Homo sapiens: one gene and its partners. The protein of the gene in region 1 interacts with the protein of each later gene in a biochemical or structural test. Each region holds a gene or a part of one and is shown on either strand. Other genes may lie near its edges. The genes, in order: NHERF1, ABCC2, EZR and NF2.

Region 1 (7,024 bases):
GAACTCACTGGGGCTATGTTCCTTTTGAGTCTCCTCCTCCCACCATGCTTCGGACCCCTCTGTAGCTGGCTCCTCCTAAGATCCTGGGGGCCACACACCAAGCCCAACATGCCTGGACGTCACTCCCATTTATCCCCTTTCCCCAGAGGCAGAACCCAGCCCTGCCCCAGCTTGGCGGTGAGGGTCCAAGAGCAATGGTGGCTGAGCTCGGCCAGGTACCCCACACCTCCCCATCTTCTCCTCTCAGTGCTGGGCCTGGAGACCACAGGCCAGGCCCCACAGATCCCCAGGGGGGCTGCCCCAAGGGACTCCCCTGCCAGCCCCAGCCTCCACCCAGGCTGGGATGGGCTGGCTTGATGGGCTGACTCAGCAACTGGCACTGACACCTCCTGGAGACAGCTGGGAGGCTCCTGCTAGGGAGGGGTGAGGAGGAACAAGGCTGGTCTCCCTTGAAGAGTGGGAACCCCCCTTCCCATGTGAGGGGAGGAAGTCTCTAGGGACTTGGGAAGGAGGCTCTGCAGGTGCATCGGAGCTGTCTAAATGCTGGTGGGGTCTACCGGGGGCTTCCCATCTCCTTGTCCAGCCACCCCCTCAGGTCCTGGAGCCGCCACAGAGCCACATCTAGACAGAACAGTGGAGCAGGTCCCAGTGCAGGGGAAGGAAACAGAGGGCACCTGAGCCCCTCAGGCTGGGTACCCTGTTTCCCCTTGAACTGCACGACTTGGTGCTGGCAGAGCGGAGCAAGGCTCAAAGCAGGCCCTGGAGCTTTGGCACCATATGTCACTAGGCGAGGGGCACTGGGCTGAAGATCAGTAAGGGAAGCCCACAGCACAGAGACCAGGGCCAGAGGATGGGCATCCCAAAGGCAGCTAGCACAGCCCTGCCCTGCCAGCCGGGGGGGGCGCCCAGAGCCACCTGCCCCCAGTCCAGCCATGCCCCTGCCCTGTCACCCACACCAGGCTTCATCCCCCAGCTCAGGCTGCAGCTCCAGCTGCGAGAGGCCCTGAGCGCCCGGAAGGAAGGCTGTGGTAGGTTGTGGTTTCTTCAGCTCCCAGCCTACCTCCAGCAGAGGCTGCAGCCGATGCCCTGGAGAGAGCCCCTGTCTGCCCTCTGCTGCCTGACTCCTGTTGGGTCCTCACCTCCCAATGGGTTGCCCCATTCTGGACTTGGATCCTTAAGGAGCACCCTGCAGTGTGGTGGAAGGAGGACAGGTTCCAAGTCAGAGACCAGGGTTGGAGTTCTGGCTGTGTGATGTCAGGCAGTGGGCTCCACATCTCTGAGCCTCAGTTTCCCCATCTCAAAAACAGCTGACAAGCCCCAGTCAGGTTGTTATGGGAAGGTTTTTGGGAGCGCAGGGACGGTGGAGGGAGGTTGGAGGAGGTCACTAGAGCTGCCCCCTGCCTGTCCTGAGATTTCACCCTCCCCACTTTCTCAGGGTGTCTGGCTGAAGCAGAAAGCTGCGCCTGTCCTGGTGACGGCGACTGGTCAGACTTGTTTCTGCTCACCTAGGCGGCCCGGGGGAGGGCCTGGCTGGGAGCTTTGTGGAGGGATTAGCTCTAGGGGAGAAGAGCCTCACTTACTCCCGGAACAAGATCCCACAGGGCTGTGGGAGTGCCGGGGGGTGAGCCTGGGGCAGGTGACAGCCGAACTAGCTGGGAGTGGGCCCTGCAGTGAGGCAGGGGGTGGGCCAGGGAGAACAAGGCAAGAGGAGCTTCATTCAGGGTTCCTGAGCCTTTGTGAGCCACTCACGTTTTTACCACTCACTTAACCGTCTTTGTTGTTGGGGTGAGGGGTCCTCGAGCCTGGATTTGGGTATGAAAACCCAGGCAAGAAAGACCTGCCCAAGCCTTTAAAGGAATGCAAAGTCATCCTCTAGCCACCCCCAGAGATCGAAAGGCTGGGGATTGAGTCTCCTGCAGATGGTGGCGGCCTCCTGGGGCTGGCAAGTTGGGACAGAGGCCCATAAGCCCTCCTGGGCGCGCCTTCCCACCCCTCTCGGCCCTCTCCACTCCCAGCTGGGGATTTGGGTTTCAGAGCAGCCTGGCACACACACCCCCACCCCACCAGAATCTCACTCCCAGCTTCCTATGACTATTCATTAGTATTCACAACAATGGGAAAGTCTGGGTGTGCACAGGGATTTTTTACAGTTAGAAAGTGTTTAAGTCAATGACCTCACTGGGCCTCAGCAACCCTGGGAGGCAGATGGCAGTCAGAATGATCCATAAATGACCTGCCCCAGGTCACACAGCTCCTAAACAGGGGAGCTGGAACCTGGCTGGGAGCCTTGACTATCCACTGCTCATTGTCTGATGTGCTGAGTGATAACACAGGGCCAGCAGGCTGGACAGCAGCCAGTGGCCCTGCACCAGGCCTGGAGGAGGGGGAGAGGGACAGGGACTCAGGCGTAGTCCTTGGGCACAGGCTTCGGCTGCCTACACCCATATTCCCTCCATCATACTGTGTGTCCAGGCCTGCAGCTTCTAAGCTGAGCTGCTTACTTTGGACCAAGCATGTTGGAAACTGTTTTCAGCTGAGTCCAAGCACTCGAAATCTGCGTGTGCCCTTTTAGTAGGTCACACCCTCCAGGCCACAGCCACACTGGGCTCCCTTTAGCCCAGCCCTGCTTTTCCCAGTCCCCTCCCCATTCAGGCTCCTCTGTTTCTGGGGTCTCTGTGCTTCCGTTGCCACCTCTGCCCTTGGGCAGCGGTGTCGGGGGAGGAGGTCCTGGAACGCCTGAGGATGGCCCCGTCTTGTCCAGGTCCCCTTGCTGTGCTGAACAATAAGTTTTTGGTTATCTGCTCCTTCTGGCTCCCTTTTGGCTGGGCCATTCGGCTTGGTGGGGGTGAGAGAGAGTTCGAGTATATGGAGGAAGGCTTTACTGTAAACACACTGACCAGCTTTCAGTAAACACCTGCCTCTTCCTCCCCTGCTGCAGAGAACGGGGTACAAAGGGGCTGGGGGTCCTCAGTCATATGCCCCAGGTCCCCAGCCAGGCTGACGGGTGCCACACTCTGCCCCCTCTCCAGGAGGGCCAGACTGAGCCACCAATGGGGAGGGATAGAGGCCCGATCAACACAGCATGTGATTCACCTTAGACTGTCAGAAGGGACAGGCATGTGAGAGCTAACCTGGTCCTACCCCTCATTTGGCAGAAGAGGAAACTGAGGCTTGGACAGAGCAGTGTTTTATCCACATCACCTAAGCAGTTAGCTGCGGTGCTGGGTATCCACACAAGTCTTTTGAGTCCTGGGCCAGAACCCTCTCAAATTGCTGTGTAGGGATCTAGGCAAATTTGCATCCTCCCAAACCTTCCTTGGTTGGGGAGATGGGGACAGGCAGAGGACAGGGAAGGCAGAACCTGGGGCACTGTGGAATAGCCATGGACCCTCCCCTGTCCCTGCAGCGCGAGCTTCGGCCTCGGCTCTGTACCATGAAGAAGGGCCCCAGTGGCTATGGCTTCAACCTGCACAGCGACAAGTCCAAGCCAGGCCAGTTCATCCGGTCAGTGGACCCAGACTCCCCGGCTGAGGCTTCAGGGCTCCGGGCCCAGGATCGCATTGTGGAGGTGATGCTTCTCGCTCTCTTCCTATCTGACTGCCCCCACCCCCTGCAGATCAGCAGCACCTGGGGCAGCCATCATACCATCATGGGCTTGATTAGCCCACGGGCATAGCCAACCTGGAGCTGCTGGATGGATGGGTGGATGGGAGGGAGGGAGGGAAGGGTGGTGGATGGATAGACGGAAGGACAGATGGACTGACTGATGGACTCTTCTCTTACCTCCACTCCCCTGGACTCCTCCTTGCCAAGCAGATACAGTGGGCAGCCTGTGATTCACCCATCGATCAGGGAGATGTCTGGGGCCATCTCCAGAGCTTCCCTGCTGCCAGGCACACAGAGTGGGGTGGCAGTAACAAAACCCCTCTCCTGAGTTAGGCCTTTATTTATTTAGTTTTTTTTTTTTTAAATGGAGTCTCGCTTTGTTGCCCAGGCTGGGGGAGTGCAGTGGCACAATCCCAGCTCACTGCAACCTCCGCCTCCTGGGTTCAAGCGATTCTCCTGCCTCAGCCTCCTGAGTAGCTGGGATTACAGGTGCCCACCACCACGCCTGGCTAATGTTTGCATTTTTAGTAGAGACAGGATTTCACCATGTTGGCCAGGCTGGTCTCAAACTCCTGACCTCAAGTGATCTGCCCGCCTCGGCCTCCCAAAGTGCTGGGATTCCAGGCGTGAGCCACCTCACCCGGCCCCGAGTTAGGCTTTTAGACTCGTGCATTCAGGGCTCTGGTGCTGTGCTCCTGGGAGAGGAAACGTGAACCAAATGCTCAGGCAGGTCCCAGAATCACAGTCTTAGAACCTTAGAGCTAGAGATCAGCTCTCCCAAGACTTCTCATTTTACACGTGAGAAAACCAAGGCCCAGAGAAGGAAGTCGGACAGCAAGTCCTTACCCAGGCTGGGCCCCACCCCGGCCTCCCAGCTCGCTCCCATCCCATCTCTCCCAGCTGTGTTTGTTTAGTCTCGTCTGGATATTTTCGTTGGCCCTTCCCATGTATCCTGCCTCCCCAGCTGACTGTCAATGGGAGGACCCCCAGCCTAGTTCAGGACTCTGCAGAAATGGCGGGGGTCAGTATCCCCAGGTTGTGAACTGCAAACTGGCTGAGAACCAAGGTGGTCACCCCTGCCCCCAACCCCCCTCCACTTACCTGCCCCAGAACCAAGGCCTGTGTCCGTAACGCCTCCCCGACCCTGCCCTGCAGGTGAACGGGGTCTGCATGGAGGGGAAGCAGCATGGGGACGTGGTGTCCGCCATCAGGGCTGGCGGGGACGAGACCAAGCTGCTGGTGGTGGACAGGGAAACTGACGAGTTCTTCAAGAAATGCAGAGTGATCCCATCTCAGGAGCACCTGAATGGTAAGCCAGGTGGGGCCACTGGCCGTCCTGGGGCTGGAGCCCCCCAAGTCAGGGATGTGAGCCAGGGCTAAGACTGCTGGGTCCCAGGCGAGGGGTGGGCAGCTTCCCGGCATGGGTGCTCCCTCCTCCTCCTTCATGGGAGGCCCAGAGGTGTGGGCTGGGGGAGCGGGGGCCTAGTGTAGGGAGTGGCAGTGGGTTTCTGAGGACGGCTTGTGATGGGGTCAGCTGGCATGAGGTCGGTGAGAGAGATGGACAGATCTTCTTATTCCCGGCCAAAGCTGCAGCCCCAAAGGAGGCCCAAGCCCCCAGTCCTGTCCCCACCAGCAGACTTTCAGGGCAGTGTCAATGTGAGGAAAGGGTTAACTCCGGGGAGGCCTCCAGCCTTTGCTTGGTCAGATCAGAGTCCAGTGACGGGGGCCGGTGCCTCCCCCTCCCTCCTCTCAGGTTGTCTTGGAAACTCAGCCTTGCTGGCTCTAGAGAGTAGTGGGTCCCCCTTCAATCCCTGGGCCCCTGCCCTCCCCATCCCCCACCATCACCCTGCCAAGCCTGGCGCCTCCCCCTGCCCAGGCCCGAGCCAAACAGGGCAGGGCTGCTGCACCGGGGCAGGGAGGGGTTAAGCATGCTCTGCTCCTTGGTCTGGACTTTCTCCCTGGGAAGATGGCTCCCTGGAGCGGGCAGGGGTGCTCACTGGGCCATACTGAGGGTGGAACCTCTTGGGACTTTGCAGTGGGTGGGGCCTCCTGGAGACTCAAGGTTGTATGTGTAAAAGGAGATTCACACAAAGGTCCTGCGACTCCCATCGCCAGCTGCAAGGGCCCACTGGGGAGGCCCTGTCCCCTTCTGGCGCAATCCAAGGCCTGAGGCTCCTAGAAGAGGGGATGGCCCCTGGAAGTCCCTAGCTGGCTCTGGGCATGGGAGGTGGGGTACCGCCTTACCCTTATCTCCCAAGTTCATGGAAACCAGGTAACTCAGATAATCCCCTTCTCCACTGAGGGGGAGACTAAGGCCCAGAGAAGCCCCAGCCTTCCTCCTAGGGATCTGATACGAGGAAGACACAGCTGGAATCTGGATTCCACTCAGCTCCTGGGATACTGTCCCCTGCTTCCCCCACCCCTTCACCCTGCAGGTAATTGGCCCCCTCAGACATTCCTCCCTCTTCTGCCTGTCTCTCGGGCTAGAGGGGCTGCAGCCTCTGGCCAAAGGACCTGAAGAGGGAGAGGCCTGGGGACAGTCCCCTCCCCGCAGTCCCTCCAGGATGGCATCCTCACCCTTTCCATAGGGAGGAATGCCCCCCTCTCCGGCTGCCAGGGTTTCACCCTGACCACTGTGAGCTGATGGGGAGGGGACAGTGAGTGACCCTGTGTCCCAGCAGCCTGTCCTTGCCCGGGGAAGGCTGTGGGTGTCAAAAGGGAGGAGAAGATGAGAGTCAGGTATCTCTGGCTGTGTCCTGGACTGGGGACAGGGAAAAGATAACCAGGAATTTTAAGCTAAGAGTTCAGAAGAAGCCCTACACTGACCAGTCCCTGGAGATGGAACAGCCACCCCTGAAGCCATGTGGGACCCCTACCCTGAGTGAGCCCAGTGAAGGTGACCCCAGACCTGTCTTCTCTCCCTCTGACCCCTCCAGGTTTCCCACTGGCTGGGGGAGGGGATACCCAGGACACACCCCTTGAGCCTTCTCGTCCCCCCTCATTTCCTGATTGGCAAATAGGAGTTGGGATTATTTTCTCTTTTTTTCTTTTTCTTTTTCTTTTTTTTGAGATGGAGTCCTGCTCTGTCACCCAGGCTGGAGTGCAGTGGTGCGATCTCGGCTCACAGCAACATCTGCCCCTAGATTCAAGTGATTCTTCTGCCTCAGTCTCCTGAGTAGCCGGGACTACAGCCATGCGCCACCACGCCCAGCAAATTTTTATATTTTTAGTAGAGATGGGGTTTCACTATGTTGGCCAGGATGGTCTCGATCTCTTGACCTTGTGATCCGCCCACCTCGGCCTCCCAAAGTACTGCGATTACAAGTGTGAGCCACCGCGCCTGGCCTTTTTTTTTTTTTTTCCGGACACAGTCTCTGTCACCCAGGCTAGAGTGCAATGGCACAATCTTGGCTCACTG
Region 2 (7,362 bases), on another chromosome or scaffold:
TCTGGTGCCAAAAAGGTTGGGGACCACTCCTCTATAGGAATTCTTTTAACATTTCTTGCAAGGCAGGTCTACTGGCAACAAATTCCCTCAGTCTTTGTTTGTGTGAGAATGTATTTATGTATTTATTATTATTTTATATATATATATAGAGAGAGAGAGAGACAGAGAGAGAGAGAGAGAGAGAGAGAGAGAGTGTCTCACTATGCTGCCCAGGCTGGACTCAAACTCTTGGATCAAGCAATCCCTCCACCTCAGCCTCCTGAATAGCTGGGACTATAGGCACGCACCACTGTGCCTGGCTTCTCTTTACTTTTAAAGAATAATTTTGTGGGTACAGAATGCTGGCTGTTGGTGGCTTTTTTCTCTCACCACTGTAAATATTTCATTCCATTCTCTTCTTGCTTGCATGCTTGCTGAGGAAAAGTTGGACATAATTTTCATCTTTTCTCCTCTACAAGTAAGGTCTTTTTCCCCGGGCTTCATTCAGAATTTTTTATCTTTGATTTCCTGCAACTTATATATGCATGCCTGGTTGTAGGGCTTTTGTTTGTTTGTTTGGCATTTGTTCTACTTGGTGTTCTCTCAACTTCTGTGATCTGTGATTTGGTGTCTGAAATTAGTATGAGGGAAATTCTCTTTCATTATTGCTTCAAATATTTATTCTGTTCCTTTCTCTGGTTATTCTCTTCCTGCTATTTCCATTACACATATGTTATACCCTTTGTAGTTGTCCCATAGTTCTTGGAGATTCTGTTTATATAGTCTTACTTATTTTTGCAGTTTTGGCAGTTATTTTCAAGTTCAAATATTCTGTTTTCAGCCTTGTTCAGTCTACCAAAAAGCCCATCAAAGGCATTCTTTATTTCTATTACAGTGTTTTTGATCTCTAGTATTTATTTCTTTTTAGTTCTTTCTTAGAATTTAAACTCTCTGCTTACATCGACCCATTTGTTCTTGTATGCTGTCTACTTTATCCATTAGAGCCCTTGGCATTGTGATCATAGTTGTTTTAAATTTCTGGTCTGATAATTCCAACATCCCAGTCATATCTGAGTTTGGTTCTGAGGCTTGCTCTCTGTCTCTTTAAAGCCTTTTTTTTTTCTTTTTTTTTTTTTGCCTTTTAGTATGCCTGGCAATGTTTTCTTCATAGCTGGACAGGATATACGGAGTAAAAGGAAGTGCTGTAACTAGACCTTTAGTAGTGTGGTATACAGTGGGGGAGGGGGAGAGGAAGAGTTCTATAGTTCTGTGAAGAGGTCTCAGTCTTTTAGTAAACCTGTGTCTCTAGACTGAATTTCACAAGTGCTTCTCAGTTCCTATCTGCCCCGATCCCTGTTAGGTGGGACGTGATGGCTAGAGTGGGCTGCAGCTGGGTATTTTCAGTTTTCATGTGGAAGGCTAGAAGAGACTGGAGTTCTTATTTCCCTTCTCCGGCATCATTTAGGCTCCTATAAATCAAGAGCATTAGGCTCTATTTAAACAGTTTTTCCCAAGGGCAGACTTTGTTTAGAAGAGAAGAATAGAGTGTCCAGGTATATTTCAAATGGTTACTTTTCCTATCCCCTCTGCCAGGGACATGGAAGCAGGAGGAGATTTTTCTCTAATAAAAAGAGAACAATATTTGAGAACCTCTTTGAATTCCTATGGGTAAACTCATGAAAGTGTGGAGATCATCCCCTCCTTATGGCTGAGTCACTCTGGAATTTTTCTCTCTCAAACTTATCTACACTGGGCCTCCGGCAATTCAATTACAGTTCAGGTTTTCCTGCCCTAGCCCTGGTTCCTGCTGAGATTTCTTTTCTTTTTTCTTTTTTTTTTTTTTTTTTTTTTTGAGACAGTGTCTCTGTTGCCCAGGCTGGAGTGCAGTGGCGTGATCTCAAGTCACTGCAAGCTCCGCTTCCCGGGTTCACGCCATTCTCCTGCCTCAGCATCTCCGAGTAGCTGGGACTACAGGCGCCCGGCACCACGCCCGGCCAATTTTTTGTATTTTTAGTAGAGACAGGGTTTCACTGTGGTCTCGATCTCCTGACCTCGTGATCCGCCCGCCTCGGCCTCCCAAAGTGCTGGGATTACAAGCGTGAGCCACCGCGCCCGGCCCCTGCTGAGATTTCTGCGCCAGTAAATTGTGATTTTTGATATTCTCTTGTTTATCTCTTCAGTTTGCCCTGTAACCTTATCTCTCTACAGATCTAAGAAGAGTTATTGATTTTTCTATTTGTTCAGATTTTTAGTTATTGTTAGGAAAGATTCATGACTTCCTGGCTCCTTACTTGCTTTTCTCATTCAATATTCCCTATGAGTACATATTTTATACTTTAAGCAACTTGTTTTGATGAACATTTAGATTCTCCACCCTCTCTTTTTTTGATTACTTAGAACGTTTAGGCCAGACACGATGGCTCATGCCTGTAATCCCAGCAGTTTGGGAGGCCGAGGCGAATGGATCGCTTGAGCCCAGGAGTTTGAGGCTCTACAAAAAAATTAAAAAAAGAAAATTAGGTGTTAATCCTTGACCTTATATTTCTCAAAGTTTTACCAAGAGTTCCCCCGGACTCCGAGTCCTACCACCAGTGCCAAGAGAAGTATGCAGCCTAAAGGTGCACCCTGCCCCAAGTGAGATCTCTTAGTTCCACAGCTGACCTTTCCTGGCTCTTCTGGTGAGTGGTATGGAAAATGATGGAGAAACTGCCATATGTTTTCATAATGGTCAGACCAATTTACATTTCCATCAACAGTATACTAGGGTTCCCTTTTCTCCACACCCTTGCCAGCACTTATCTTGTTGTTTTTTTTTTTTTTTTGTAATAGCCATCCTAATAGGTATGAGGTGGTATCTAACTGTGGTTTTGATTTGTGTTTTCCAGATGACTTGTGAAGTTGATTCAGTTGTCATATACCTGTTGGCCATTTATATGTCTTCTTTGGAAAAGTGTCTGTTCAAGTCCTTTGCCCACTTTTTAATTTGTTAGTGTATGTTTGCTATTGAGTTGTATGAGTTCCTTATAGTATATTGTGGATATTAACTCTTCATCAGTTATATGGTCTGCAAATATTTTCTCCCACACTGAATGCTGCCTTTTCATTTTTTTTATGTGTATACTTGACTTTTAAAATCAGTAACAAGGTCCATACAATTCACATTTGGCTGATATGCCTCTTGATTCTCTTGTAATTTGTAAGTTCCTTTGACTCCTTTCCTTCTTTTAATTTATTTATTAAAAAATGGAATCATTTGCACTATAGAATCTCCCACATTCTGGATTTTGACAATTGCATTCCAATGGAGTCCTTTAGCATGTTCCTGTGTTTCTTATAATCCGGTAGTTAGATCTAGAATTTGACCAGATTTAAGGCCAATTTTTTTTAGCTAGGATACTGCATGGGTGGTTATGTTTTAGCTAGGATACCGCATGGGTGGTTCATGATATCATGAAAAAAGCATGTTCTTAAAGCAATTTAAGTGACAGTACAAAAGGTTGGGTCAGGTGGGGCACGGTAGCTCATGCCTGCAATCCCAGCCCTTTGGGAGGCCAAGGCAGAAGGATTGTTGAAGCCTGGAGTTTGAGACCAGCCTGGGCAACATAGTGAGACCCCGTCCCTACAGAAAACATTTTTTTAATTAGCTGGGCTTGTTGGCATGTGCCTGTAGTCCCAGCTACTCAGGAAGCTGAGGCAGGAAGATCGCTTGAACCCATGAGGTCAAGGCTGCAATGAATCATGATGGCAACACTGCACTCTAGCTCAGGCAACAGACCAAGACCCTGTCTCAAAAAACAAAAAACAATAACAAAAAAAGAAAAGGTTGGGTCGATGACAGTTTCTAGCGACTGATGCCACCACTCTGTTTACAGAATCACCCCTCTCCTCTGGCCCTGATGTTTTATCATGATATCATATTTACAATGCCTGGCAAAGGCTTCATTCCCATTTGGCATACTACCTCTCAGGCAAATAGAACTTTTGAAAGCCTGTATTATGTATATAACATATAGGCTCACACTGGATAAGCTATTTTATAACCTGACTTCTTCAAAGAAAGTTTACATCATGTTTAAACCATGTTTTAGATTCTATATTTTTAATTAAAAATCTAAGGAAGAAGGATATTTCACATTTCTATAAACTCTAAGATCTTGCAGCAGAAGCGAAACTGCACATTTAGGGGTGCCTGCCCCTCTACTGATGCTGCCCTTTGTGGGTCATATGTCCTTAGGAAAATGAAAGACTGTGCACTCTTGATTTGTTGGCCAGCTCTGTTGACATCTTTCAGTGGTTCCTTTTATGTATGGCCACTCCTACAGAGGCCTCTTGTACTTTGGGAACTGGTGAGTCTCCCTGTCCCTAGGGCTTTTTAGTCACATGTCCATCCACTGTTTCAATGTAACATGCATCTAGGCAAGGTTAACGATTAAATGGTTGGGATGAAAGGTCATCCTTTACGGAGAACATCAGAATGGTAGATAATTCCTGTTCCACTTTCTTTGATGAAACAAGTAAAGAAGAAACAACACAATCATATTAATAGAAGAGTCTTCGTTCCAGACGCAGTCCAGGAATCATGCTGGAGAAGTTCTGCAACTCTACTTTTTGGGTGAGAAATTACATTTATCTTCATATTGACTCTTCTCAGACTCAGAACAAGTGGTAGTTAGTTAACTTAGGGTGGTCACCAACAAGAACCAGAAATGTTAGATGTGCAATTGGTCTAAAGCTCAGGCTTTTTAGAAAGCATAATTCATAATATCTCCAGAGGATATAAGATCTGGGAAATGTAATGCAAATTATTCTCTGTCATATGTTTTTTTATATCAGACTCTTGTACTAGCTAGTCGCAAAATTGCCTTCTCTAAAGAGAAACAGGTAAAAACCTTCCAATTTAATCCGTGTGAGGAAGGAGAATTGTTGTTGCATACTTTGCTAGTAGAAGGAAGAGAAGATCCGTGACTGAGTCTTGCTGAGACATGTTGATGTTGAAATGATAATGATAAGTTCTAGAACTGGCAACTAATGATATGGACTAGAAGTTGAGTCTAGGGATGCAACTTTGGGCATCATGAGCATTGAAATAATTTTTGAACAACTAGAGTTGGGTAATATTGTTTTTAAGGAAAAGAAGAGACACCACTTAGAGGGTGAACAAGAACAGTGTAACATTACGGAGTCATAGATAGCAAAAAATTTCAAGATAGGGGCCAATCAACAGTATCAAAGGTCTAGTGGAATAGAAAACAAAAAAGGACCTTAGATTTAGTGATTTTAGTAAGGGTTTGGTGAGAAAGTATCATCTGCAAACTCCTAGCCTCAGCATCAGAATCACCTGGGGCAATAAATGTAGTTTAAGTATCTTAAGTGATTCTTCTGAATTCTAACATTTGATAACCTTATATAGAGGTGAGAGGGGCAGGGATGAGATAGCAGAGCACCTGGGCAGCACCTCGTGTCTTAGAAAGGACCTGGGTCCCAAGACCCTCGAGGCCAGGAGTGTATACCACGGCAAGGTGGATCTTCATGGGCTATAGTATCTAGACAGGCCATCTCTTGAGAATTCTTTCTGAGAACTACCTGACAAACTTTCTTGGTCAGGGCATCGCAAGCAATTCTTTAAAGAGTCTGTATAAATAATCATATAAAACAATTTTTAACTATTTATAGGAAAAGAAAAATCCACACTCATGTGACTCAGATACAAGAATTGGTGCCCACCCCCCACCCCCCAACTTCCACTTCACAAGACACTTCCATTTATCGCAGAATGCAAAGACTGCACAAAACTTGCTGGTTGGAAGCCTTCTGTCCAACAATGCTGTTGTCACTGCTGTGCTGAAACTGGCCAGGTTTTTAATGTAAGCGCTTTGGGCCATCAGAGAGCAAATGTTACAGTATGACTAAGCATTCTCCCTGCATGGCGCCTGCATGTTTGAATATCTGCCAGTGAGTTCAGTTAGTGCTAGAAACTTGAATAATTTTTTATATCCCAGGGAACTATTCTGTCCTTTAAACTGGGGAACAGTCCTTCTTCATCCTATAATTTGGCAAATGCAGTGGTGAGGTTTACTCAGAATAGCTGGTACAAAATTCACTTAGAATCACAAGAAGACACGTTTTTGGAGGGTGGGTTGGCCAGAAAGTGACTACATTTGTCATTAAATGGTGAATTTGTATCCATGTGCACAAATAGGAAAATACGGATAGTTAAAGGGTAAGGCTGGATATGGATATGGAGTTGAATTTAAATTGTGTGAAAGCAGTGGGATGTGCTGCAGGGTGGTTTTCTGTCTTCACAATGCATGTATGCAACAATCCTTCCCCTTTGGTCTCCAGAATTCCTCATTCCTGGACAGTCCGGAGGCAGACCTGCCACTTTGTTTTGAGCAAACTGTTCTGGTGTGGATTCCCTTGGGCTACCTATGGCTCCTGGCCCCCTGGCAGCTTCTCCACGTGTATAAATCCAGGACCAAGAGATCCTCTACCACCAAACTCTATCTTGCTAAGCAGGTAAAGTTAACACCACTGTTTCTGAACTCTAATTCCTTGGTGCACAGTAGAGACATTTTCTTGGTGGTTAGTGTTCTCTTCCTTGTCTTTAAGCAGCTGTCCCAGGTGCCATTGTCTCAGGTAGAGCCAGGCTCAAGGTTTCCCTCACGGGTCCCTTGCTGCATTTCTTAAATCAAAGTGGCTTTGATTTTTGCATAAGAATGGTGACTCTTAATTCTTGTGGATATTGGGTTCCCTAAACACAAAGGGCATATAATCAATCAAATTATCTTTATAGCATTTGAGAAATGAACACTGGATCACCTGTCTTTAAACAGCTCTAATAAATCAGTGGACTGTAATTCAGTTGGCATCTACCTCGTGAAAATGAGCTAGATAATGGATCTCCTGCCCCACTGAGGCAATCCAACTATCACTCATCTTCAAAAACTTGGGTCCGAAATAAGGTTTCCATTTTCCCCGCATATTTGATGAGTCAGGATGATCACTCACAGTAGAAGGAGGAGGGGTAAGTGTGCACAGTGACAAGCACGAGTAGGGAAATAATGGAAAGGACAGGTCTGCGGGAGAGGCCCAGGAGGGGCCAGGAGGGGAGGAGCCCTCAGCCAGCTGCACCAACTCACTCAGGGAAGGGTCTTGTGGGAACCCAAGACCCTCATTCGAGGTTGTAAAATTATCTCATAAAATCTTCCATCTGCTTCTTTTCACTATTTTTTTTTCTATCTCTCCTTATTATCATTATTACTACCATTTTAAATGGAGTCTCACTCTGTTGCCCAGGCTGGAGTGCAGTGGCACTATCTCGGCTCACTGCAACCTCCACCTCCTGGGTTCAAGCAATTCTTATGCCTCAACCCCTCCCGAGTA
Region 3 (7,024 bases), on another chromosome or scaffold:
GTGGCAACTCTCTCAGATGGTTCTTTCCCCACAGAGCATGCTGGGGTGTTGGGCAGGCTCACTTTCTGCCTCTCTTCTCCCCATTCCTGAAGGCACACCCCTCTCTTCATGAAAAAAGCATTTATGTAGATATTCAGTCATTTAATAGGCCCAAATTCTTTCCCTTTTGAACAAATATTGACAACTTGGTAGCAGCATAAGCAGGAGACTGTCCTGAAGTCTGAGGAGTGCTGAGAACTCGCCAGCTGTTGCGCTGTTACCTCTCTCGGTAGAACTAGGAGAATTAGATATGCCTGAAACATTGTTCAGGTGAGAAAGCTGATCTATTGAATATGGAAATTGAGCTCTAAGAGATTTATACTCTGCAAGTAAAGTCTCTATTAAAACACCTGTTTTAGTATTAAATAGGGTCTGGCTGGGAAATCTGTCTCTTGGGGTTCCCTTTTCATTGTACACATAAGCATTAAGTGGGAGCATGTAGGACTATTTGTCATCTTTCTTTAAACCCTTAGCTTGGAATAGGTGGGAGTATAAAGAGGGCAAAAACAGGTAAGCGCCCTCCTGACAGGCATTGTAAGCTTGTGAACAGAGGAAGTTCAGTTTAGCTGGGTTACAATTTGAAACCTGACACTCGGACCAAAAACAAAAACTAACAAAAACTAGAGGAACCTGATCTTTAGTCCTGTAAAAGCACTTTTTCTCCCTTAGCTTCATCCCTCTTTGGGCAGATTTCATCATAGAAGTCCTTCTGTAGGTAGGAGTTTCTGGAAATGCACTAGGTCCAGGGCTTCCACCTTAAAGGGAAAGGGTGCACGGGGAGCTTGGGGACTGAAACAGGAGCCACAGAACATGTCTCTTCTTTAAATTCCTTGCGGATAGGTACTCAGGGCTTCGCTTGCTTTCTCACGTCTCTTTCCGTATGCACTCCACTGTCACCCTCTGGCCCTCTAACACATTTCCAAGAAAACTGCAGGCATCCATATCCTTCCTCAAAATGAAAGTGCATATGATATACTAGAGGTTGGTTATGTTTTGTTCTTTTGATGTAAAATTTAAATACAATGAAATGTAATCTTAAGTGTTCATTTGTTGAGTTCTGACAAATATGCCTGAAAAATGCAAAATCTTAAGACATGTAGAACATTATCACACTCAGCTACATATTTTGGATTTACATTTTTTAATCATTCTTGGTTTTTTTTTTTTTTTTGATATGGAATCTCACTGTGTCACCCAGGGTGGAGTGCAATGGCACATTCTCAGCTCACTGTAACCTCTGCCTCCTGGGTTCAAGCGGTTCTCCTGCCTCAGCCTCCCGAGTAGCCAGGATTACAGGCACATGCCACCACTCCTGGCTAATTTTTGTATTTTTAGTAGAGATGGGGTTTCACTGTGTTGGCCAGGCTGGTCTCAAACTCCTGACCTCAAATGATCTGCCCACCTTGGCTTCCCAAAGTGCTGGGATACAGGTGTAAGCCACCATGCCTGGCCCATTCTTGCATTTTAAAGTCATTTCAGGCTGGGCATGGTGGCTCATACCTGTAATCCCAGCACTTTGGGAGGCTAAAACAGGTAGATCCCTTGAGCTCAGGAGTTCAAGACCAGCCTGGGCTGGTCTTTGCCAACATGGCAAAACCCCGTCTCCACCAAAAGTACAAAAAATTAGCTGGGCGTGGTGGTGCATGCCTGTGGTCCTAGCTACTTGGGAGGCTGAGGTGGGAGGATCACTTGAGCCCGGGAGGCGGAGGCTGCAGTGAGCCAAGATTGTGCCACTGCACTCTAGCCTGGGTGACAGAGTAAGACCCCATCTCAATTTAAAATATATATATTATTTCAAACTTTAAAAAGATTCTAAAAATAGTACAAATAATTCCCATATACCCTTCACTTAGCTTCCTCAAACATTAACACCTTATGTAACCGTAGTCCAAATACCAAGATAAGAAAATTAACATTAGCAGTCTCTAGACCTCATTCCCATTTTAATCAGTTGTCTCACTGATGTCCTATTTCTGCCCCGGGACCCTCTCTGGAGCCACACAGTTAGTTGTCAGACCTCCCTGTCTCCTTCGATGTGGGATAGTTCCAGTCTTTTTTTGTCATGACCTTGGTATTTTTGAAGAGTACTGGCCATTGACTTTGGAAAGCCCTTCAGCTTGGATTGTCTGGTGTTTTCTCATTATTTGGAGTTTTACATTTTTGGTAAGAATAAAGTGCTGTTTTGCCCTTCCAGGACCTCTTTCAAGGTGGCACATGTGGTCGGTATATCTTATCTTAGGTGGTGCTAATTTTGATTATTAGTTAAGGTGGTGTCTGCCACGTTTCTCCACTGTAAAATCACTATCCTTCCCTTTACAATTGGTCAGTATATTTGGGGGAGATAATTTTAAACTATGTAGATGTCCTAGTTCTAGCTACCATTGATGAGATTACTGTGGTATTTGAGAAATTGTGATTTTTAAAAACTTTTTACGTGTATTAATTGGAATTCTATAAGGAGCCAATTTCTGTTCTCCATTTATTCAGTTATATTAATATGGACTCATGGATATGTGTTTCGGTCTTTGGGTTATGATCTATGAGTATGTATCTTCTTGCTCAGGTTGTTTGAGATTTGGCCTTTAGGAGCACCTTGAAGTGTGAGCCCTGCATTCTTTGCAGGCTTCCTTGCTGCCTGGCTCCTCGAGATGCACCAGGTTCATCCTTTGTGTTCCCTGTTCTAGTCCTGGAATCAGCCATTTCTCCAAAGGCCTCTGTCTGGTCCCTGTTATTGGAGAATCACGCTTTTTTAATGTGTGGCCTAAGCAAGGACACTTATAAACCCTGTGGCCACCTTCTCTGTAGACCCTGTTCATGTCCTATATGTGATCTCTTAGGAAAAAGGAAATCCTTGGGCTTTAATTTTCCAACTTTGGTCAAGAATTAAAAGTTCTTTAACTCAAAAGTGAGTCATAATTTTCATGTTTAACCTTTTTGTTTTGATACTGCAGTTATGCTTATGAGTGGCTATGAATTGTTATATGAGGTTTCAAAGTCCTAAGAGGAAAAACTTTCTAGGCACACCAGAGAGCCGGAGGCCTAAATTTTCTAAGGTCAGAACCTGTTTTGAGAGTCCTGTGTAGAGACAGGAGCCGGAGAGGGGATCCCAGCCCCTTGAAGTTTCAGGATGCGGCACGCTGGCTCACAGTGCTATGTGCTGTGGGCGGAGCCTCCGGAGCTTGGATCCTAGCTTCTCTGTTGGTGCCAGCAGGCTGCTCTTGTGTTTTGGGAGAAAGTGCTCCAGAAGCAACACATGCCTACCTGGTGCCACTTTCACAGCCTTTCAATGTAAGGAGGACATAGGCTGAAGTCAGTAGCAGGGCAAGGTGGTATCTGGAGTTCCCCTTTAATGCTCTGAAACCTGTAAAGAAAATTACATCTCGAAGATAAAAGAACAAACTCATTGCATGTCTGTTTGAATGCCAGGTGTGTTTTTTTTTAATGGGGATTGGTGATTCTAGAGCATAGCACTGTAAAAGAAAGGATGTATACAAAAGCTTTGACATTTAGAACCATGGTCTGGCCAGTGTCCTGCCATCATTCCTGCAGGCACACCATGACTGACTGCGCTAATTCCCCAGAAGGGCCATGTCAGGCTTACATGTTTGCCCTCAGCCTACAGAGTCCACCCCACTGCCTTGATCTAGTTGATGTGATCATAACGAAACCTGTATTGCTCATCAGTATTGAAGCTGTTGGTAGGCCATAGATTGCTTGACCTTCCTGCTACTTCTAAAATGAAGGTTTTTGTGGGATGTTGGAAAGGACTGCTTTGGAGGGCAGCATTGTTGGATGGTGGTTTTGAGGATTTGTCGTTATTTCCAGAATGGCATTATCCCTGGTAAAATGTGTTGGAAGAATAGGGTGGGAAGTGTCAGGTGAGCAGAGCAATGTGGTCTTGAAGTCACATGATGAACTTGGGAATGCTAATAAAAGCCAGAGTCTGGCCAGTCATGGCATTGCATTGGTTAAGTAGGATTAGCCCTGTGGGGCCTTCATTAGGGCGGTTAGTTTGAAGGCTGTCCTGGAAGTTGGAGAGTGACATGGGAAGATGTCTGTCCAGCCAGGAGAACACACACTGGAATGAGAACCAGAGGAGCAGAATGCATAGCAAGGCCTCTGTCCGTTTCTCTTGGCAAGCTCTGTTGAGTATGGCACGTCTAGGAACGTGATGGGATCTTGGCCCTCCCTGTTGGTTTCATAGAACTAAATGATCAGTAACTTAAATAACATTCAACAGTCTGTAGCAGAAGAGCCTGTATGTTAAGAGAGGCCTCAAGGGAAAGGGAGGCAGCCCTGGGGAACTGTGTGTTGAAAGGTGGGTCTGAACCGTGGAGTTTGGGGCTGGATTTGACAGCTCTTGGATGCTGAGTTAAGGACTGTGTTGACATGGGAGGAGAGGAAATTAATCAGATCAGCAGACTGAAAGTAGGGCTGCTCCAGCACACAGCTTGAGAGTGGGCTCTGGCAGGATGAGAGGTAGGTGAGTGTGGTGATGTGATGTGGGAATGAACAGCAGAAGATACCTGAGGGGGAGGGTCAAGGTACCTGGGTAGGAATTTCAGTTGACCTCGAGATCACCAGCCTGGGTAATCATAGGTGCCCTAGACTGAGGAAAAACCAAAGGAAATGGGAACAGATTAAGGTTGCAGATGCCTTGCAGCCAACCACTTGGCTTAACCTAGGACAGGTGGGAACTATTTGATAATAGCATATAACACATTGTGCCTCTTGGGTTAGCTTCATATTATTTTAATTGAACTAATAAGAATTGATTTGCGAATCTCTCTTAGCCAATCCAAGAACATATGTATACATCTAACCATCCACTTCTTCTTTTTAACCTCAGGTTAACCCCAAAGATTGGCTTTCCTTGGAGTGAAATCAGGAACATCTCTTTCAATGACAAAAAGTTTGTCATTAAACCCATCGACAAGAAGGCACCTGTAAGTTCCAAAGGATTCTATTCAGGGGCTACTGTTTTTCATTCTTATACTTGTCAGGGTAACGGACAAGTTATACTGTGACGAGTAGCCAGTGATAGTCCAAACTCCTCATGAGGTTACATTGAGGGCCAGAGATCCTGTGGGCCAGGCAATTGCTGCAGGGGAGACCACTTAACTTTTCAAATGATTCTCATTCCTTATGAAGAAAAGGGCAGTTCTGAGCCATTGGCCAAATGATAAGCATTTCCCAAAATGCTGTGTTTTTGGTGTGGAGAGCCAGCCTGTCCCCTTGACCACCTGGGTGCAGGGACTCTCCCCGGCACCTGACGGACAGTGGGACCTGCGAGTCTCAAGGGCCAGATTTGCCTTTCAGAGCTGTCCTGGAACTTACCCAAGATAGGGACAGTCAGACTTGCACCCAAGCATTGCTGGTGCCCAAGGTTTCATCGGGGCTTCACCCACTTCTGTTGTCAGAGGTGTGCATCCTCACACAGGTGACACTGGCAGGCAGTCATTTTGGGAGGACATGGTAAGAAGGCGACACTTTATGTCCTGAAATCTGATAGTATTGATTGTAATAGCTGCAAAGACCAGTGCATTATGTAAATTTGGTTTTATTTATTCTGCTGACATTTAAACTTTTGTTAACTCAGAATATTTGAGACATACGCACATAACTGTAGCATTGTAGAATGGGTAAGGATTTTGTTATCTAATCAGAAATCTAGTTCTCTAAAAAATTGCCACCTGAAGAAATTCTGTTACCACCTTAGAGCCTGTTCTGAATTTTACGAAAATTATAGATTGGAAAGGACTTTGTGTTCTCATGTAATTTTGGTTCCTTAGTTACAGTGTTAAGCTTGGAGAGGCAAACATGGGCTGTGGTCCATACCTTGGTTGTCTTGTTAACCCTTTTGGGACTGGGTACTGCTTAGCAATGGTAAATCCACTTAGAACAGTATGTGGTGTTATTGTCCTGTTACTTCTCCCCACATACAGGTTTGTCTAGCATAATTTAAAATCAGCAGGTCTTGACAATTTTGTGAAAGTATTTTCTTCTTTGTTAAAAACGTCTTGGCCAGGCTCAGTGGCTCACGCCTGTAATCCCAGGACCTTGGGAGGCTGAGATGGCCGAATCACGAGGTCAGGAGTTCGAGACCAGCCTGGCCAACACAGTGAAAACCCCATCTCTACTAAAAATACAAAAATTATCTGGGCGTGGTGGTGGGCGCCTGTAATCTCAGCTGCTCGGGAGGCTGAGGCAGGAGAATCGCTTGAACCCAGGAAGCAGAGGTTGCAGTGAGCTGAGATCGCCACTGCACTCAAGCCTGGGTGACAGAGCTAGACTCCGTCTCAAAAAAAAAAAAAAAAAAGGGCTCCTGCTGTTTGCAAACTCTTGGCTGCTACTCTGTGGGTAGTTGCACGGTTATTTAAAATTAAACGCGTATTGAATGCAGACTCTAAGGCTCCATGGCAGCAGTTCATATTATGCAACAGCATGAATGGAGGGTCATAGCGTCTTCATGTCACTTGGGTAGTAAGATTGGCACAGTTTAGAAGAGCAAGAAAATGCTGAAATCTCTTCATCAGTAGGCTACTACGTACTCTGTGACGCTACTGCCTTTTCAGAACACTTATTAAAAATTTGACTAGAGCAGCAGCTCTGGACTAGACTGTTTCAGAATGTTTGTGCGTGTGTGTGTGTGTGTGTGTGTGTGTGTGTGTGTGTGTGTGTTTGATGATAAGTCCATCTCTTGAAAAGCTGAAGAATATTTTCATAATAAGCCCCAAGCAGAAGCCATTGTAACGCATCTCGTGCATGTGCCTTTATTATAGAGTAGCCTCATGTGAAGCCATCTCGTAAGCAAAAGAAACATTCGCTGGTGGCACGCTGTCCCAGGCACTCTTCCAGGGCTGTGTGCACCATCAACAAGGCAAAGCTCCTACCCTGGTGAGCCTACATTTACGTGAAGGAAAGGGTTAAAAAGGCAACTGAGATGCTTCCTGGTAGTAAATTTAACAGTACAGCTGTGATTAAA
Region 4 (7,024 bases), on another chromosome or scaffold:
GAAGTAAGAAATCTGAAAGTGTCAGGGAATATGCAGTCTGTGGGCCCTGGCAGAGAATAGCAGGAACACTGCAGATCGGCACTGCTTACAGCACAGCAGAGCCACAAACCTGGCATCTGGGCAACCACAGATCAGGTGGACAGACACTGACCTTGGAGCCAGATCTGAAATTTAGAATGTGAGTAAGTCAATGACTTACCTTCCAGACCTTAGTTTTCTCATCCATCAGGTGAAACTAATGATATACCTTCTCCATCTCAGATGAAGGGACGTATATTACACCTTACAGTCTTTGTATGCAGTAAACTTCTTTTGTGAATAGGAGGTCTTTTATATTGGGGTAGAGGTCTCAGGGAAAGTACAGGGCCAGGAACTGAAGGAGATTACCTGGCTTTTTTTTTTAATAAAAGGGTCTTGTTCTGTCACTGAGGCTGGAGTGCAGTGGTGCCATCATAGCTCACTGTAACCTCAAGCTCCTGGGCTTGAGCAATCCTTCTGCCTCAGCCCCTCAAGTAGCTGGGACTACAAGTGCATGCTACCACACCTAGTTAATTTTAATTGTTTCGTAGAGATCAGGTCTTGCTATGTTACCCAGGCTGATCTCAAACTCCTGGGCTCAAACATTCCTCCTACTTCAGCCCCCCAAAGTGCTAGGGTTACAGGCATGAGCTGCTATGCCTGCCTGGCCTGACTGGGCTTTTTCTTTCTTTCTTTCTTAGTTTCTTTTTTTTTAAAAGAATTGTAGATATGTAGTAAGCCACCTTATGGAAATTGTAATATGATGGAAATTAGAGAACAAATTGGCCAAGCTTTTCATTGACTTACAAGGAGAAAATTGGAGAAGAACTTTCACTGTTTTATTGCTTGTCTTTGCATTATCTTTTTGAGCTTGTGTGTGTGTGTGTGTGTGTGTGTGTGTGTGTGTATTTGGCTTAGGATTTAGAAAAAGCAGCAGTCTTAGAAACCTTGTATGACCAGAGTGTGGGATAAGATTGAAGCAAGAAGTAATTAAATGTGCTTTAATTATTTAAGGCAGAAAATAGTGCAGTGGTCACTTCTGGGTTCTGCTTTTTGAACTCAGTTAGTACCCTGGGATCACAGAGGAATGGCACTGTCTTGTGCTTGTTCCCCTTATTAAGCTCAGCATGTGGCCCAATTAATGCAGTGATCCAGAAGGCAAGGGAGGTAGTGGTGGCTTTGTGCTGTTGCCTTAAGGACACGGGGCTGTGTTTCCCGCCTGGCTCCCTCCTGTCCTAGGCCTGGCTCAGGAGTTGTCTCCACATGAGGCTGTGCAAGTCTGTGCTGTGGCTGTTGCAGCTCCCCCCTGTGAAATACAATGTGTGAACTATTGATGCATCACGTAGAATGATTCCATCTTCTCTGTGGGTCAGAGGCAAGAGTGGAGCTATTGTTGATGAAATCAGAGATGTGAGAGGGGTCCATGTGGATTAGAAATGGTGAGATGGCTTGCCTGCCCAGATGAGAAAGCTGCTTATTTCTGGGGCTCTATCTGAGGGAGGAGGTCCTGCATTGCATCCCATCGGCCATGGGGCAGAGCCACCTGGGGTTTCCCAACAAAAAGCAACATTGGCAAGGTAGCCATTTCAGTGCACCGTGTATAAGAATGCCTCCTTCTGCCAGGCGCGGCGGCTCATGCCTGTAATCCCAGCACTTTGGGAGGCCAAGGTGGGTGGATCATAAGGTCAGGAGTTCAAGACCAGCCTGGCCAATATGGTGAAACCTGATCTCTACTAAAAATACAAAAATTAGCCAGGCATGGTGGCGGGTGCCTATAGTCCCAGCTACTCGGGAGGCTGAGGCAGGAGAATTGATTGAACCTGGGAGGCGGAGGTTGCAGTGAGCCGAGATCGCGCCACTGCACTCCAGCCTGGGTGACAGAGCAAAACTCTGTCCCCTCCACCAAAAAAAAAGAATGCCTTTTTCTATCCGGGTCAAGACTCAACAGGTTTTTATTGTTTGTTCATTTGTTCATTCACCACTAGACTGTTTTTCAAGTGGCACAGCTTTCAACTCTGCAACTGGTTTAGAAGGACGGGGTGGGGGGCAATAAGAATGACCCTGGCTACCTAAAGGAAAGGGAAGGAAAAAGGTCCCAAAAGGGGAGACTGGAGATGGGGCATCTTTGGGCCCTTGTGGCACCCTAGGTCTCGAGCCCTGTGATTCAATGACTGTTTTTCTTCACCCCTCGCAGATGGAGCGGCAGCGCCTCGCTCGAGAGAAGCAGATGAGGGAGGAGGCTGAACGCACGAGGGATGAGTTGGAGAGGAGGCTGCTGCAGATGAAAGAAGAAGCAACAATGGCCAACGAAGCACTGGTGATTTCTGAGGGGCTGGGGTTCCAGGAGGCTACTTGGGGACTTCCTTGGCTTTTCTGGAGCTTGGTCTCCTGAAAACCATGAGTTAGCAGCGTTTGCTTTGAAATACTTAATTTCAGCTTTGAAAAAATCAGTGCCTTTTCTTTTCACCTGTGTTGGCAGAAGCAGATTTAGGTTGAGCTTATGTGCAGCCAAACTCCACTTTCACCACGAGGTTGCCTTTATAGCAGGGCTTCTCAGCCTGGGCACTACTGACATTTGGGGCTGACCATCCTTTGCTGTAGGAACTAGATCCCAGTAGCAGCACCTCACCCTCCATTTGTAACAATCCAAAACATCTTCAGACATTGCCACATGTCTCTTTTTTTTTTTTTTTTTTTTGAGACGGAGTCTCGCTCTGTTGCCTAGGCTGGAGTGTACAGTGGCACGATCTCAGCTTACTGCAATCTTCACCTCCCAGGTTCAAGCAATTCTCCTGCCTCAGCCTCCTGAGCAGCTGGGATTACAGGCATGCATCACCATGCCCAGCTAATTTTTGTATTTTTAGTAGAGATGGGGTTTCCCCATGTTGGTCAGGCTGGTTTCGAACTCCTGACCTCGTGATCTGCCCGCCTCAGCCTCCCAAAGTGCTGGGATTATAGGTGTTAGCCACCGTGCCCAGCTGTACTTTTATTTTTTTTTTTTGAGATGGAGTTTCACTCTTGTTGCCCAAGCTGGAGTGCAATGGCATGATCTTGGCTCACTGCAACCTCCGCCTCCTGGGTTCAAGCGATTCTCCTGCCTCAGCCTCCCAAGTAGCTGGGATTACAGGTGCGCGCCAACACATCCAGCTTTTTTTTTTTTGTATTTTTAGTAGAAATGGGTTTTCACCATGTTAGCCAGGCTGGTCTTGAACTCCTGACCTCAGGTGATCTGCCCGCCTCAGCCTCCCAAAAGGCTGGGATTATAGGCGTGAGCCACCGTGCCCCACCTGCCACATGTCTCTTGCAGGGGACAAAAAACTCCTCTGGTTCTAACCACTGATTTAAAGGGAAAGAACAGAGTTTAAGTTGTTTTTCTCCACGTGAAGCATAAGCCTGAGCTGAGGTGGGTACTCAGAGAAGGTGCTCTTGTTACTCCCCATGGGTGCAGCCCGAAGGGCCCTTCTGAAAAGTTGGGGAATGTGGCTTGTCATTTCTTGTCAGAGGGTCATGGAGGGCACTCAGCAGCAGGGCCCCAGGAGTCCGAGACTCTGGTTTGTCCCATCTCAGTGTTCAAGGCAGATCTGGGCGGGAGAACAGCACATGATCCCACTTCAGCTAAGAGCACTGTGCCCTCCAGATGCGGTCTGAGGAGACAGCTGACCTGTTGGCTGAAAAGGCCCAGATCACCGAGGAGGAGGCAAAACTTCTGGCCCAGAAGGCCGCAGAGGCTGAGCAGGAAATGCAGCGCATCAAGGCCACAGCGATTCGCACGGAGGAGGAGAAGCGCCTGATGGAGCAGAAGGTGCTGGAAGCCGAGGTGCTGGCACTGAAGATGGCTGAGGAGTCAGAGAGGAGGTGAGGGGGCACCGGGCACCAGACTGGCGAGGAGGCTGGCGAAGGGCCGCAGACCAGCCTGCCCTGAGGCTGAGCTCTACAGCAGTTGTCCTCAAGCTGCTTGCCCATCTTCTGGGCCGTGGGGAGGCTCCTCCTTGGCTGATGGTGACTGGTGCTTTATCCATTTTGGGGCTGGCGCTACTGGTTGGGCACAGGAACTCAGTTCCCCCTCCAGGGGGGCCTCTCTGGTCATACTTGTGTCTCTTTGATAAGCCCCTGTCCCTCTGATGGCCGTGTGTGCAGGAAAACCCCTGAGCATATCCACAGACCGCTTTCAGCTGAAGAGATGTGAGGAGGCTCTTTGTGCATTTAAAAAAAGTGTGGTTCTTTTCTGCTTTCATTCAGTGGGGCTGCAGGAGAACAGCAGCTGCCTACCTTTAAAGGGAAGCTAGTGCCTGCATCCCCCAGCCTTTCTTGGCACATGGGGGAGGAGGGCTAGGATGATCTCTGTGACTGGGATGTCCCACTCATGGCCAGGTTGAAGGATGGAACTGTTGTCTGTACTTTTGAAAGACTATTCTAGGCCTGCAACCTTCAGATAAACACTGACACATTCCCCACAGCTTTTGGCTCTGTTGATTTAGAGCACTTGAATTTGGCTTTTAGCTACCAAGGTGCATTCACTACAGTTTTCCTCACCACGCTTTGCATGTCGTTCTGGGAATATGGTTCCTTTTTGCCTGCCCTGCTTCAGGCCCCTTACTGTATTCGGGGGTCACTCCCTGTGCATGATGCAGGTTGGGCCAGGTCCCTGCACCAGGCCTCACATGCCGTGACCACCTGAGCCCCATAGGATGAGGATCTGCACCAGGGTGCGGGTGCCCTCAGTGACTGGGCTCATCTTTCTGCTGGAGAAAGTGGGCACAAGGCCCACTGGTGTTTTATCCGGGGGCTGTGAAGACGCAGTTCTTGCACATTCTGCCCTTTGCGATCCAATATAAGAACTTTGATCCTCCAGGTTCTTCCTTTGCCCAGCTCACTCTCACCCAAAAATAAAGCAGAGAAAGCTGCTGGTGCCCTCTCCAGCTCCTCTGTCTCCTGGCTGCAGAAGGTCTGGTTTCTCTCATTCCCCACCAGTTTTCCTGCTCTTCCAGTTTAGATTTACCAACTCAAACAAAAGTCCTCAGGAATGTTGTCCTTGCTTGGAAGTTCTGATTTCATGTAAATATCCCTGTCTCACTGTCCTTTTTCACCTCTTTGGGTGCCATCCTCAGGGTTAGCCCAGGTCCCTCCTCTGCAGGGGTGGGGTGGTGTCTTTTCCTGCTACCTGCCCTCTTCTGTGAAGCTGACATCTCATCCTTTCCTTGCAGGGCCAAAGAGGCAGATCAGCTGAAGCAGGACCTGCAGGAAGCACGCGAGGCGGAGCGAAGAGCCAAGCAGAAGCTCCTGGAGATTGCCACCAAGCCCACGTACCCGGTGAGCCTGGGGGCCACCAGCTGGGGCTGCCTTAGTCCTGGTGATGTTCTCTTTCCTCCCGGCCCTTCAGTTCATCTGGCGGTGCCTTCAGGGTGACCATTCAGGCAAACACATGGCTGGATGAGAGGTGCAGAGAGCCTGCAGTTAGGGACTGGGTAGAACATCCTGGTCTGCCATTTGGCTTTGGACTAGTTAGTTGTCTCTTTGGTTGCCTGGATAACAGGCAACAGGGCCTTTTCCAGCTCTGGAATGTTTTTCTTTTTCTAAGTAATATAGTCCCAAATTATCCTCAAGAGAATTTGCTCTCTTGCCTCTTAATGCTGAGCTGAATGTAATCTTCAACTATCAGTATATACCATATATCATAATTATAGTTCTGGGAAGGGATTGGCTGTACACCTCAGAGTGAATTACTGCCGTGCAAGAACGAGCAGCCACTCTCAGTTTGGGGACAGAGAGTCAGACTTCCATTAAATGGGGTCACAAAATGAATAGAAGCCTCTTTCCTTCCTTTCTTCTGTGCATTCAGTTTGGCATTTTTTTTTTTTTCATATTTGTTCAGTGTCCACATAGTGCCATGCAGTTGGAAGTCTCTATCCTGACAGGTGTTCTCAGGGTGCACAGGTGCCTAGAGGAGGAGGACACAGCCCACCCTGGAGGAGCAGGAGAGGCTCAGTGTGGTGTCTACACTGATGCTTGAAGGGGGAGCAGGAAGTAGCCAGGTGGAGAAGAGAACATAGGGTATTCAGGGTGAGGGCACAGATGCACACATGGCCCAGACTCACACACAGCACAGTCATCTACATGGCACAGACACACACACGTACCCATACATACATTGATGCACATAGCACATCCACACACACAGCACGGACACACACGCACCCATACTTACATTCATGCACATGGCACAGGCACATACATGACCCAGATGCACAAAGGGCACCAGAGGCACAAGCTGCCCAGGGTTTGAGGTGGGGAAAATGTAAGCAGTTTGCTGTTGCCGTATATCCCGGTTCTCCGTTACTGTGTAACAACCCACCCAAGCCAGCTGTGTGGCTTTGTTAGTACCTCTGGTGGCTTGTTGGGTTGACTGGGCCAGACAGAGATCCTTGCTGGGGATCTCTCTGGTGGTCACAGTCAGATGGTAGCTGGGACTGGAGTCGTCTGAGCAGTCAACTGGGCTGAACACCTGAGATGTGTTATGTTTTTATTTTTTATTTTATTTATTATTTTTTTTTTTAGAGAGAGAGAGTTTTATTTACTCTGTCACCCAGGCTGGAATGCGGTGGCAGAATCTCGGCTCACTGCAACCTTAGCCTCATAGGCTCAAGCGATCTTCCCGCCCCAGTCTCCTGAGTAGCTGGGACCACAGACATGCACCACCACGCCCAGCTAATTTTTTTTTTTATTTGGTAGGGACAGGGTTTTGCCATGTTGCCACAGCTGGTCTCAAACTCCCGAGCTCAAGTGATCTGCCTGCCTCAGCTTCCCAAAGTGCTGGGATTATAGGCATGAGCCACTGTGCCCAGCCTATATGTGTTGTTTTTAAAATATACACTGGAGCAAAGCTTATACACTGCTGTAACTGCTCTTTCCTCTTAGCAGTCAATCCTGAAGGAGATCATCCATATCAGCTTTTTAATCATGTTTTGTTGTGTGGATGGATTGTAATTTATTTAACCAGTCCCTCATG

What was found.
Region 2: the proteins of NHERF1 (region 1) and ABCC2 form a complex in vitro, tested with the Homo sapiens proteins (2 studies listed by BioGRID).
Region 3: the proteins of NHERF1 (region 1) and EZR form a complex in vitro, tested with the Homo sapiens proteins (2 studies listed by BioGRID and IntAct).
Region 4: the proteins of NHERF1 (region 1) and NF2 form a complex in vitro, tested with the Homo sapiens proteins (2 studies listed by BioGRID).

Annotation. Positions count from the first base shown.
Region 1 is NC_000017.11:74,758,606-74,765,629, forward strand, and holds part of NHERF1 (Na(+)/H(+) exchange regulatory cofactor NHE-RF1), read left to right. Parts: intron 1-3,406; coding exon 3,407-3,568; intron 3,569-4,761; coding exon 4,762-4,915; intron 4,916-7,024. UniProt on the Homo sapiens protein: Scaffold protein that connects plasma membrane proteins with members of the ezrin/moesin/radixin family and thereby helps to link them to the actin cytoskeleton and to regulate their surface expression. Necessary for recycling of internalized ADRB2.
Region 2 is NC_000010.11:99,778,287-99,785,648, forward strand, and holds the start of ABCC2 (ATP-binding cassette sub-family C member 2), read left to right. Parts: upstream 1-4,353; 5' UTR 4,354-4,558; coding exon 4,559-4,591; intron 4,592-6,321; coding exon 6,322-6,495; intron 6,496-7,362. UniProt on the Homo sapiens protein: ATP-dependent transporter of the ATP-binding cassette (ABC) family that binds and hydrolyzes ATP to enable active transport of various substrates including many drugs, toxicants and endogenous compound across cell membranes.
Region 3 is NC_000006.12:158,774,369-158,781,392, reverse strand, and holds part of EZR (ezrin), read left to right. Parts: intron 1-4,888; coding exon 4,889-4,985; intron 4,986-7,024. UniProt on the Homo sapiens protein: Probably involved in connections of major cytoskeletal structures to the plasma membrane. In epithelial cells, required for the formation of microvilli and membrane ruffles on the apical pole. Along with PLEKHG6, required for normal macropinocytosis.
Region 4 is NC_000022.11:29,669,614-29,676,637, forward strand, and holds part of NF2 (merlin), read left to right. Parts: intron 1-2,212; coding exon 2,213-2,335; intron 2,336-3,655; coding exon 3,656-3,873; intron 3,874-5,222; coding exon 5,223-5,328; intron 5,329-7,024. UniProt on the Homo sapiens protein: Probable regulator of the Hippo/SWH (Sav/Wts/Hpo) signaling pathway, a signaling pathway that plays a pivotal role in tumor suppression by restricting proliferation and promoting apoptosis.